2 separate regions of the Homo sapiens genome follow, and region 1 is linked to region 2. Evidence: fine-mapped expression QTL. Tissue or cell type: whole blood. Region 2 holds a variant in brackets; the other region holds the start of a gene. All regions are shown on one strand. Distances are between the middles of the regions. Region 1 holds the start of GRAMD2B (GRAM domain containing 2B). Region 2 overlaps GRAMD2B (GRAM domain containing 2B).

Region 1 (5,379 bases), 40 kb before region 2:
TGGGAGTTTATGCCAAGGATGATAAAAAAAAGTTTTGGGTACAGATAAGTGGTGATAGTTAAATAACATTGTGAAAGTGTTGAATGCCACTGAATTATACACTTATTAAAATGATAAATAGTAATGTTATGTATATTTTACCACAATAAATAAATTACTTAGCGGGGAAAAGTCAGTCTGATCTGAGCTCTGTAATGAGAAGTTGGAGTGCACCTGAGATCTGAGAGTCCTCATCCAGAGTTTGGGAAATTGACAACCTCATCTCTGTTCCAAACCTATCCCTATTCTGAGGAGGGTGGGGATCTAGAGGTGAAGGCATCAGGAATGTCCCCAGGAAGAGGCAACTATGGGCACCAAGGAGACAGCCTTCAAGCTTTCAGGTCACCCAGAGTTTTCCCCATCCCACCTAGCACAGCTCCTATAGCAAAGCAGTCAGTGGTCAGGAAAGAAAAAGAGAGAGAGGCCTGACTAAGCCAACTCTTCTGGAATTTATGTAAGCTTTTTCTTTTACTTATTTTTCAAATGTCACAAACATCAATTTTGGAGCAAGCAGGCTACAAAAAGATGCTTTTGTTCTCTCAGCCTAATGATATATATGTAAAAAGAGAAGGAATAAGAAAACTTTGGAAAGAACTTGCACCTCCAAAATGTTTGAAGTTATTTAGAAGGTTAGGTGTTTTACACACACATACACCCTACAAACTACATACATACATGTACATACTATGGTTGTATAGTCTTTGTAATACTCTTAAATCTAAACTTTATTTTAAGAGAAAAATGAAGGACTTGCAGCCCCAGAACATAGTTAGTCGTTTTTTCCCAGGCATGTCATGCTCTACTGTTGCCACTTGTAATTGTTTTGAAGTCAAGTCAGGCTTCCAATAATAACGTTTATATTAATTATTCTAATTGTCAACTACTCCATTGCAAATTAGAAAACCACCAATACAAATGTCATTTGCTATAACAAGTCAATGTTTATACAAGCTTGCCCAACCTGCAGCCCAGAACAGCTGTGAATATAGCCCAATACAAATTCATAAACTGTCTTATAACATGGTGACATTTATGCACGGATTTTTTTTTTTTTTTTGAGACAGGGTCTCACTCTGTTGCCCAGACTGGAGTGCAGTGGTGCATCTTGGCCCACCACAACCTCCATCTCCCAGGCTCAAGTGATTCTCCTGCCTCAGCCTCCCAAATAGCTGGGATTACAAGCGCCTGCGCCACCTCACCCAGCTAATTTTTGTATTTTTAGTAGAGATGGGGTTTCACTAGGTTGGCCATGCTAGTCTCGAACTCCTGACCTCAAATGATCCACCCGCCTCGGCCTCCCAAACTGCTGGGATTACAGGCGTAAGCCACCGTGCCTGGCCCCTGCACAGACCTTTTTTAAAGCTCATCATCTATCCTTAGTGTTAGTATATTTTATGTGTGGCCCAAGACAGTTCGTCTTCTTCCAATGTGACCCAGGGAAGCCAAAAGATTGGACACCCCTGATTGAGAACAATGCCTGGAACTTTGTAGCTCTCAAAAGTTTGTTCAATGAATGAATGAGTGAATGCTTCCAATACAAAACCTTAGAACAGGCAAGTCAAAATGTCACCAAAAGGTGGGAAGAAGAGGCATTCACGGTACTGGTTGAGTGCATAGTAAATAAGGTACTTGCACAACTATGGGCAACAAAGAGACGGCTTGGGAATTATCAAACACCAATTTTGATTTTGATGAGAACAGTCATAACCCAATATTTGAAGATTTTGATGGTTGCTTCTTCTTTGCCCCTCTAACCACCCCCCCCACCCCAGAACGATGAAGGGTTAACCAAAACACCACCAAAGGCAACTACTTATTACCTTTGTTATTCCCACATAAAAAATTGAGCAGACCTATTGTTTAAGCAGAAGAGGCAGTCCCTCAATGAAGCAATATCCTGTTTGAATAATTTAGGATGGGGCATAGGCCAGCCCACACAGCGCATTTGTGTGACAGGGCGTCCCACTCAGACGTCTCCATTTCCGGTATCTAGAGCCGGCTGCCCTCTAAAAATCCCCCTGTTACAGTCGGGATAGAAAACAAAAAGCTTAATTTACCAGGAGGCTAAACAGATTGTGCCTTCTTAGGCAAATGTTCCACCTGCTTGGCCAATTAGCTTCCTCTCCCGAAAGACTCGTTCAACAGGTTTCCTTTTTCTCTTCTCTGCCTCCTGGGTTGGGGAAAGAGGCTGTCACTTCGCTTCGACCCTCCCCTTCCCTCCCTCTCGGCTTTTCCACAGTGGGTCGGACCAATCGCGCCCGCTCCGACGTGTCCAGGTCCGCGGCCCCGGGAGCTTGGCGCGGCCCGGCCTGGATGCGCTGGGCGGAGGGTGCAGGGGAGGGCACGGCGCCGCTTGCTTGGCCTGCGCACCCGGACCTAGAAGCCGGGACGAGCCGGGGCAGAGCCAGGCGCGCGGAAGTCTGAAGGTGCCCTCCAGACACGGCCCCGATGACTGAACTACAGCAAGATGTGGAAGACACAAAGCCTGCGAAAGTGCTCGGGAAGAGGGAGAGCAAACTTGGCTCAGCCCAGTGAGTATTCTCAGCTGGGACCCATCCAAGGAGGTGGGAGGAGCGCAGCCTAAACTTCTCTGCCCCGGGACGCATTTTGGGTGGATGCGGATTTCTGGAGCTCCTATATGGACAATCTTGTGGCGCGCTCTCTCTGTCTCTCACTCTCTCTCTCTGTCTAGATATTCAGTTAAGGAGATGGTTTAGATTGATTGAAAAGTCTACTGTAGGATTTAAACAAATTCTCTTAATTCAAAACTCACTGGATGTTGGGAAAATAATTTTGTAGAAAATAAGCCTAACCACATTGAAGCTCAAAGTCCCAACACAGCCCTTCGTTTAGAATGACCATTTTCACAAATTCATTTTAGTTCAGCAAATAATTGAGTATCTACTTGTTCAATAACGATGGGCAATACAAGGATAAATGTTATTTTGGATCTGCCCTTCTGGAACTTCAAGAGCAGAGTGGGGATGGGGGAGGCACAAATGAATATTACTGTACTTCAAGGGACTTTGGTGACCATTGCCACATTAAACACACAGACAAGGTATGATAAAGAGTTTAGCCTATAATTGAGTCTTCTCTACTTTTAAAATATTTATCTATTTTGCAGTCTTTGGTAAAATTGGTTTGGGAGGAGAGGTTGTTTTTTTCCTACAAAGTGGTATTTTCTAAGCCTACTGAAGTCACTTCTAATTCAGTCTATGATTTTAGACACTAACCCTTCTGAGCTCTAAAACTCTTGTTCTGGTATCAGGATATGAGTAATTTAGGAAGGAGGGATATGTATTATCATAAGGTTATACTGATGTGATAATTCCACTTTGAAATCATTTTAAGTTGCCAAATTTTTGTGCTTAGAAACCCGGTCTAACTTCTGTTTTGAACTTCATAACTTACATTAATTATCACTAGGCTCAAAGTCTTGTTGAAGTCTGGGTGTCCCCATGGACATTTCTTCTAAGAGGATTAGAATGACTTGCTCCTCACAATTTCCCTGCGTCTGTAACTGCACCCATGTAGACCTCATCACCTAGAGCCTTAGCCTCCTAAATAATAGTAGCTGGCACTTACTGAGAATGCTTACTATGTGACAGGGAGTGTGCTCAATACTTTAAATGCATTCTCACAAAGAATGAGGCAGGTGCTATTATTTCCATGTTGCAGATAAAAGCACTGAAGCTCTGAGAAGCTAAGCAGCTAGGCAGAGTCACAAAGTTAATAAAAGAGCAGCCAGGATTCAAGCCCAGGTCTCCTAACTTTACAGCATGAACTTAGAACCACTATGCTGTACACTGGTTCCTCTGTTCCAGAATCTATGATGGCCTTCCATGGCCTACTCTTAAAAATAGGCTTCTCTGCCAAGATTTTAAGATCCTTCATGATCTGGACCCACACAGACCATTGCAACCTCACTTCCTAATACTAGTCAGCATGCACATCTTTTATAGCCAAACAATCATACTAGCAGCCCTATACTTAAAGGAGTGATATGCAGCACTCCCATGTTCATTGCACATTACTCACAATAGCCAAGATATGAAATCAACCTAAGTGTCCATCAACAGATGAATGGATAAGAAAATGTGCTATATACACAAGATACGAAATCAATCTAAGTGTCTATCAATGGATAAAGGGATAAGAAAATGTGGTATATATACACAATATTATTCAGCCTTTAAAAAGAAAGATCATTTGTGACATGGATGAACCTAGAGGACGTATGTTAGACAAAATAAGCCAGGAATAGAAAAACAAACACTGCATGTTCTCACTTAAGTGTGACATCTGAAAAAGTTGACTCAGGCCAGGCAGGGACTGTGGCTCATGCCCATAATCCCAACACTTTGGGAGGCCGAGGCTGGAGGATCACTTGAGCCCAGGAATTTAAAACCAGCCTGGGCAACAAAGTGAGACCCTGTCTCTACAGACAAAAAAAAATAAGTTAAGCATGATGGCGCACACCTGTGGTCCCAGCTGCTCGGGAGGCTGAGGTGGGAGAATCTCTTGAGCCCAGGCAGTTGAGGCTACAGTGAGCCATGTTCATGCCACTACATTCCAGCCTGGACACAGAGTGAGACCCTGTCTCAAAACTAAAATTTAATTTAATTTAAAAATAAATTTAGAAGTTGGATTCATAGAAATAGAGAGTAGAATGGTGGTTTCCAGGCGCTGGAAGGTAGAAAGGGTGGGGAAGGAGGGAATAGGGAGTTGATCAGAGGGTACGAAGTTTCAGTTAGGAGGAATAAGTTTTGAGTTCTATTGCACAGCAAGGAGATTAGTGAATAATAATATGTTGTATATTTCAATATAACTAAGAGTAAATTTCAAATGTCTCACCATAAAAAATGATAGGTAAGCAAGACCATAGGTATGTTGCTTGATTTAATCATGCCACATTGTATACATATACCAAAACATTACCCTGTACCCCATAAATGTAAACAATTATGATTTGTCAATTAAAAATAATATTAATTTTAAAATAATTTAAAAATATATTTCTTATAAAATTCAAAAAAAGAAGTGATATGCAGAAGGAATAAGGAACTGGTATGCCAAACATAGGAGCAAATGAATCCCCTTCTGTCTTCACTTTTCCTTACTGCTATTCCTTTCCCCTCTCTCCTCTCTCTTCATCTACTTCTAGAAATCAACTCAAGTTTTCCTTCATGTGAAGCCTTCCTTCATTACTGGCCATACTCATCTCTTCTTTACCAGTGCTCACCTTGTACATATGTGGCTTCCGCCTCATAGAATTTATCTGCTGTTATTATGACGATTAATTAACAATTAATGTTTATTGACAGTTTAGTTTGTACA
Region 2 (5,379 bases):
GCAGGAATGATACTTGACTCCACATAAGAGTTCTAATTCTGAAAAATTGTGAAATGAGAATTTAAGTCATCATCAAACTAATGATGTCTGGGAAGTGACAAATATTAGATGGCTGATAGGGATTGTACAACCTGTTTTTGTATGTATAAATTGTGTAACAGTGTGTGGCAGTGTTTTATTGAAACAAGATTGTCCTAGCCAGTAATAAAAATGCTGTTCCCTGGCTGGGCATGGTGGTTTATGCTTTGTAATCCCAGCACTTTGGGAGGCCGAAGCAGGTGGATCACTTGAGGCCAGGAGTTCGAGACCAGCCTGGCCAACACAGCGAAACCCCGTCTCTACTAAAAATACAAAAATTAGCCAGACATGGTGGCAGGCACCTGTAATCCCAGCTACACGGGAGGCTGAGGCAGGAGAATCACTTGAACCTGGGAGGTGGAGGCTGTAGTGAGCAGAGATCACGCCATTGCACTCCAGCCTGGGTGACAAGAGTGAAACTCCATCTCAAAAAAATAAATAAATAAAAATAAAAATGCTCTCCCCTAATAGGTGAAGTCAGGTTTAGTTGTTATAAGCATGACTGTCTCACTGCTTTGAAATTTCTACTAAAAGCCTTTCAGGCAGGGACCATAACTGATGCTTAAAGTGGGTTGGAGATGGGAGGAGAAATAACCTGCCAAGGCCAAGTAAAGGTTGGTCCTGTGTCTCCAGCATTTTCTACTGCTTCTGTGGATACTTACACCTGCCAGCTCACTTACCTGTCTCATCTACAAAGCTCTGAGCACCCTGACAACAGGGACAAGTCCAGTAAATATTTGTTGAAAAAGGAGGATTGGTTTTTTGGTTTGTTTTTTCAGTTGACTCTTTTAGTCAAAGTCCGTAACAGGGCTTTGTCTTCTGGTTAAAAAATAAATAAAAACTGATTTCCTTATTTTCATGATTTAAATGAAACCTGTTCAGCTTCGTTGACCGTAACTTTAAAGTTACTAAGTGGCCTGGTTCAGCTTCATTGACAGTAACTTAAAAGTTTCCAAAAGGCCTTGAGGAAGCATTCCATTTCCCCTCCCACGCTGCTCACTCAAACACACGCTAGCCTCTGCTGCTTGAATTCTACATAGTTTCAGTCTGCTGCTGACAAGACCTCCAAGGTAAGGGACGCTTGCAGGAATAATCTTGCCTGTGTGAGGAATTAACTTGCTTGAGCCTGTAGCATCTTTAAGCAAAAACCTAAGATCAAATTGACTCGTAGATGAATTTCACTTCCTCTTTGAGATACTACATAATTAATCCATATCATTGAACGTATAAATGACCACTGTGAGCAAATGCTGAGCTGAGTGCTGTGGAAAAAAACCAGACATTCCCTGCCTTTAAGGAACTTGGTTTAGTGCTGGATAACTAAGATTTTTGGGAGAAAAGGTACCAGTACAAGGTATTAATTAATTAGATGCCTAGTGAGTTATAAAATCAGCAGGCAGCATAGAGACTTTTAAGCAGTGTGGAGGATGTGTCCCCTGGCTAGGGCCTTCAAGGAGAGAACCAGTGCTGAAGACAAGACACAAGTTGAAGGAGAAGTGAAGTGGAGAGTATGTAGAAAAAAGCTACTTTGAGTACACTGTATGTTCCATCCTTGAAAGACATTGTTTTAGTAGGACAATATAGAGGCATGCACTGTAATCTTTTCAGTGCTAAGCTAGGGGTCCCGAAACAGGACCACCTTATGTGGTTAAGCACTTAAGTCACCTGCACTGCACACAAATGCCTGACCAAGATGGGTCAGGGTCAAAGAGGAGCTGAAATCTAGCCTCAGTTTTGCTGCCTTCTGACCTTGGTGCTGGGCTGTTTCTGCCAAGAGCAAGAAGCACCTTATCTCTGCCAGGAGCACCTTTTGCAGAGTGGCTCTCTGTACACAAAGATGCTGTATAGGACAGCTCCAGCTCTCCCTCTAAGTCTTCATCTGATCCTGCATAAAATCCAGTAAATATCTGAATAAATGTTGAGATGGATTATTGAAGTTCTATACCCAGTCTCTACTTAAAGAGGGCTTCTCAAGTAGATTTCTGCCTGAATCTGTTGAAGAAAAGAGATAATGTGTTTGTGTCTTGGGGGAAGCGAAAAAAGGCAGAGATGTGCTTTAAGGCCTCTTAACTATTCTAAAATTCTTTGAGTCCACAAATTAAACTTGGTGCTAAGTTTAATAAAGTCCAATTATTATTTTAAACCAAAACAGGGTTTTCCTAATAATATTTCAATGCCTCAGCCTTCCATGTACCTTTGTCACATAATGCAATTCTGTTATGGACTGAGCCCTTTTAATGTATGTAACTGTTTTAAGTACTTGGAGAAAAATTGAAGAAATAGAAGGTTGGACCTCTGTCCTCAGATA[T/C]GTATCTACTAGGAAAAGAGAAATGCTTACCACAAAATTAAGAGCGTCAACCATTTGGCCGGGTGCAGTGGCTCACGCCTGTAATCCCAGCACTTTGGGAGGCCAAGGTGGGCAGATCACCTGAGGTCAGGAGTTCGAGACCAGCCTGGCCAACATGGCAAAACCCCGTCTCTACTAAAAATACAAAAATTAGCCAGGCATGGTGGCGTGCGCCTGTAATCCCAGCTACTTGGGAGGCTGAGGCAGGAGAATCTTGAGGAAGGAGAATCTCTAGGAGGCAGTGGTTGCAGTGAGCCGAGATCGTGCCACTGCACTCCAGCCTGGGCAACCAGAGTGAAACTCCATCTCAAAAAAAAAAAAAAGAGCATCAACCATCTGTGGGTGTTATTAGTTAGATACCCTTGTCAGATATACTGGCCTTGATTCTGACACTACAATAGGACTCCTCGCCTAGGCTGCAATTTTCATATGCTGTGAAAAGTGATCAGCAAAGCAACCACACAGCTTAAACTATCCAGTGGCATTTCCTGCCTGCACAGTCATATGCAGGTGAGACTACCAAATAGGTGGTAAATGAAAGTGAAGATTAGCTAATCTCTCATAGCAATGCCATCTTAACATGTCTTTCTTTAGGCTCAGTCTCCATGGAGTCCTCACATCCTCAGAAGTATCGTTTGTGTTTTACTGAGCTGACACACCAAAGAAGTTCTGATCCATAAATAACATTTTGTATTCTTCCTTCAACATCCCTTCCTTTCCCACTTTCCCATTGGAAGTGGTTTCCCCTGCTTCCCAAGAGATCTTCACCGGCCGACTGAGGGAACTCACCTCTGCATCCCCCAAGCTGGTTGTCCTCTGTTTGTTGGTTCTATGCACAAACCTTCTTGACTCACCTTCCCCTCTACTCCCTTCCACCTTCTCTTTTACCAAGGTCAGACCTAGTTTTTCCAACGCCTATTGATCATGACTGTAAGTCAACACTATCCTAGACCCCGTGGTTAAGACAAAGATGAGTAAGATTCCCACTCTGCCCTGGAGCTCTCACACTGAAGAGTTAATTATGAGGATAAATGGATGAGTAGGTGGTTGGGGGGATGAATGGAGAGAGAGAACACAAAGGTTTTGCAGACAGACATACTAAGTTTGAATCTCAAGTAAGATAGATGCTAGCTCTCTGAACTTAGGCAAGATAGCAAGAGCCTCAGATTCCTCATCTGTAAAATGAGGGTAGTAATTCCTACCTAGTCTGGGTGGTTGTAAAGATTAGAGACTGTAAATTGCTTAGGGAACTGCTTGGTTAAACAACATGTAAGTGACATAAGAGAAATGCAAACAAAAGGGGTGGGGGTTCCCAGCAGGAAGGCTCACACCTGCAGGAGGCCACACGTGAGCGTGTGTACATGTGCGTGTGTGCTTGTGCAGGGCGCTCCCAGCCTCCAGGTGATCTGCTGCCCCAGCACAGCCCATGCAGAGCAGAGCTGGGCAGCACAGACCTGGGAGCCAGCAAGTCCACACAGTCTGGCATTTACAAGTGAAACAGGTGCGACCTGCAGCTACTGCCGTTGGGACACCAGGCAAGGGGTTAGAATGGAGATTGGGAAAGGGCCTCGCTGTCAAAGTTAACTAGCCTATCAGTGAGGAATGAAAATCATTCCATTCTCTAGAAAACCATGTTACTTCATCGTTTTCCTTCCAGCTACCTCTCTCTGAATGTCTAAAGTGAAGCGGTTTCCTTTCTTCTTCAGCTCAGAGGCTGAGAATGGTGTGGAGGAGAAAAAGAAAGCCTGCAGGTCGCCAACAGCCCAATCCCCTACCCCATCTGTGGAGGCGGACTCCCCAGACCAGAAGAAAATCATTAGCCTATGGTAAGTCCTCCGTTGACTCTCTTTGTTCTCTTTTGTCTTTTGGGGAGAAGGCGTTACAGGAGGAGCAGGGGTTTTTTGTTAAGAGTGAGGATGTATTAATACTATAGACAAATAATACTCCTGAGAAAGAATGAGCATTTTTCCCTGATACCCAGGTAGCATCTTTTTCTCCCTCCTGCCCCAGCCTTCAGCAGAGCATCTGCACCTTTCTGAAAGCGCTGATTTTGCTAAGTGATGAGGCCAGGGTGGACCCCTCTCTGGCATATGTTTAGAAAGCTGGGAAGGCTGGCCAGGTTGGAGTGTCTGCCCGGCCTTGGGTGTGCACACCTGGTGTCTCACTTTCCTAGGGGCCGTGAAAAAAAGCCGAGGAAAAGAATCCCCATCCCGGGGACCCACCAGGCCACCAGTTTCCTGTGACAGACTAAGAGGGAGGGTTGGTTTGGTTGTGGGGCCGGAGGGGAGAGGTGGTTTTGAGATGTGTAGCTGTAGCCTCATCTTTCTCAGAGGCACCAACTACCATTTGGTAGAGACTAAAGTTGGTAGAGACTAAAGTTGCTTTGGGGCACTTAAAAGATAGCGGTTAAACCAACAGTGTGTGATGGGTGAGTGCAGTTTATCTAAACTGAGTACAGAAATCATTGTGGTCCTTCACCATTATTAGAACTTTGAGAACTGCTACCTTCTACTTCTTTTGGTCTTTGCTAAAAGATTATTAACTCCGCTTTTTGCTTCCTTCCTGGCTTCCCAGCCCATATCTTCTCTCCAAATCTATGCTTCATTCAGGACCAAGAGTAAGTCTTAACTCCTCCCGAAATTTTCCTCTTCTGACTCTAATTCCCAATTATCTCTCCATCTTTCCTGCATGCTGTTTTGTGGCATCTCACCTTTTTTTTTTTTCCAGTCGGAGTCTCGCTCTGTCATCCAGGCTGGAGTGCAGTGGCACATTCTCAGCTCACAGCAACCTCCGCCTCCCAGGTTCAAGCGATTCTCCTCCCTCAGCCACCCTGGTAGCTGGGCCTACAGGCATGCACCACCATGCCCACCTAATTTTTGTACTTTTAGCAGAGACAGGGTTTCACCATGTTGACCAGGTTGGTCTTGAACTCCTGACCTCAGGTGATCCACCGG

The links. PIP is the estimated chance that this variant, and not a neighbour inherited with it, causes the effect.
Region 1: GRAMD2B starts here. The variant in region 2 is fine-mapped to the expression of GRAMD2B in whole blood (INTERVAL, PIP 0.91).

What each region holds. Positions count from the first base shown.
Region 1 is chr5:126,421,120-126,426,498 of GRCh38, forward strand. GRAMD2B (GRAM domain containing 2B) reads left to right here and starts at 2,290. Exons shown (of 14, transcript NM_023927.4): 1 at 2,290-2,570. The coding sequence starts at 2,488. RefSeq lists a silencer at 2,265-2,394.
Region 2 is chr5:126,461,295-126,466,673 of GRCh38, forward strand. It overlaps GRAMD2B (GRAM domain containing 2B), which reads left to right. Exons shown (of 14, transcript NM_023927.4): 2 at 4,132-4,251. Among named protein-coding and RNA genes, the nearest start is that of GRAMD2B, 41 kb to the left of the region's middle. The variant T/C (reference allele first, on the strand shown) is at 2,387.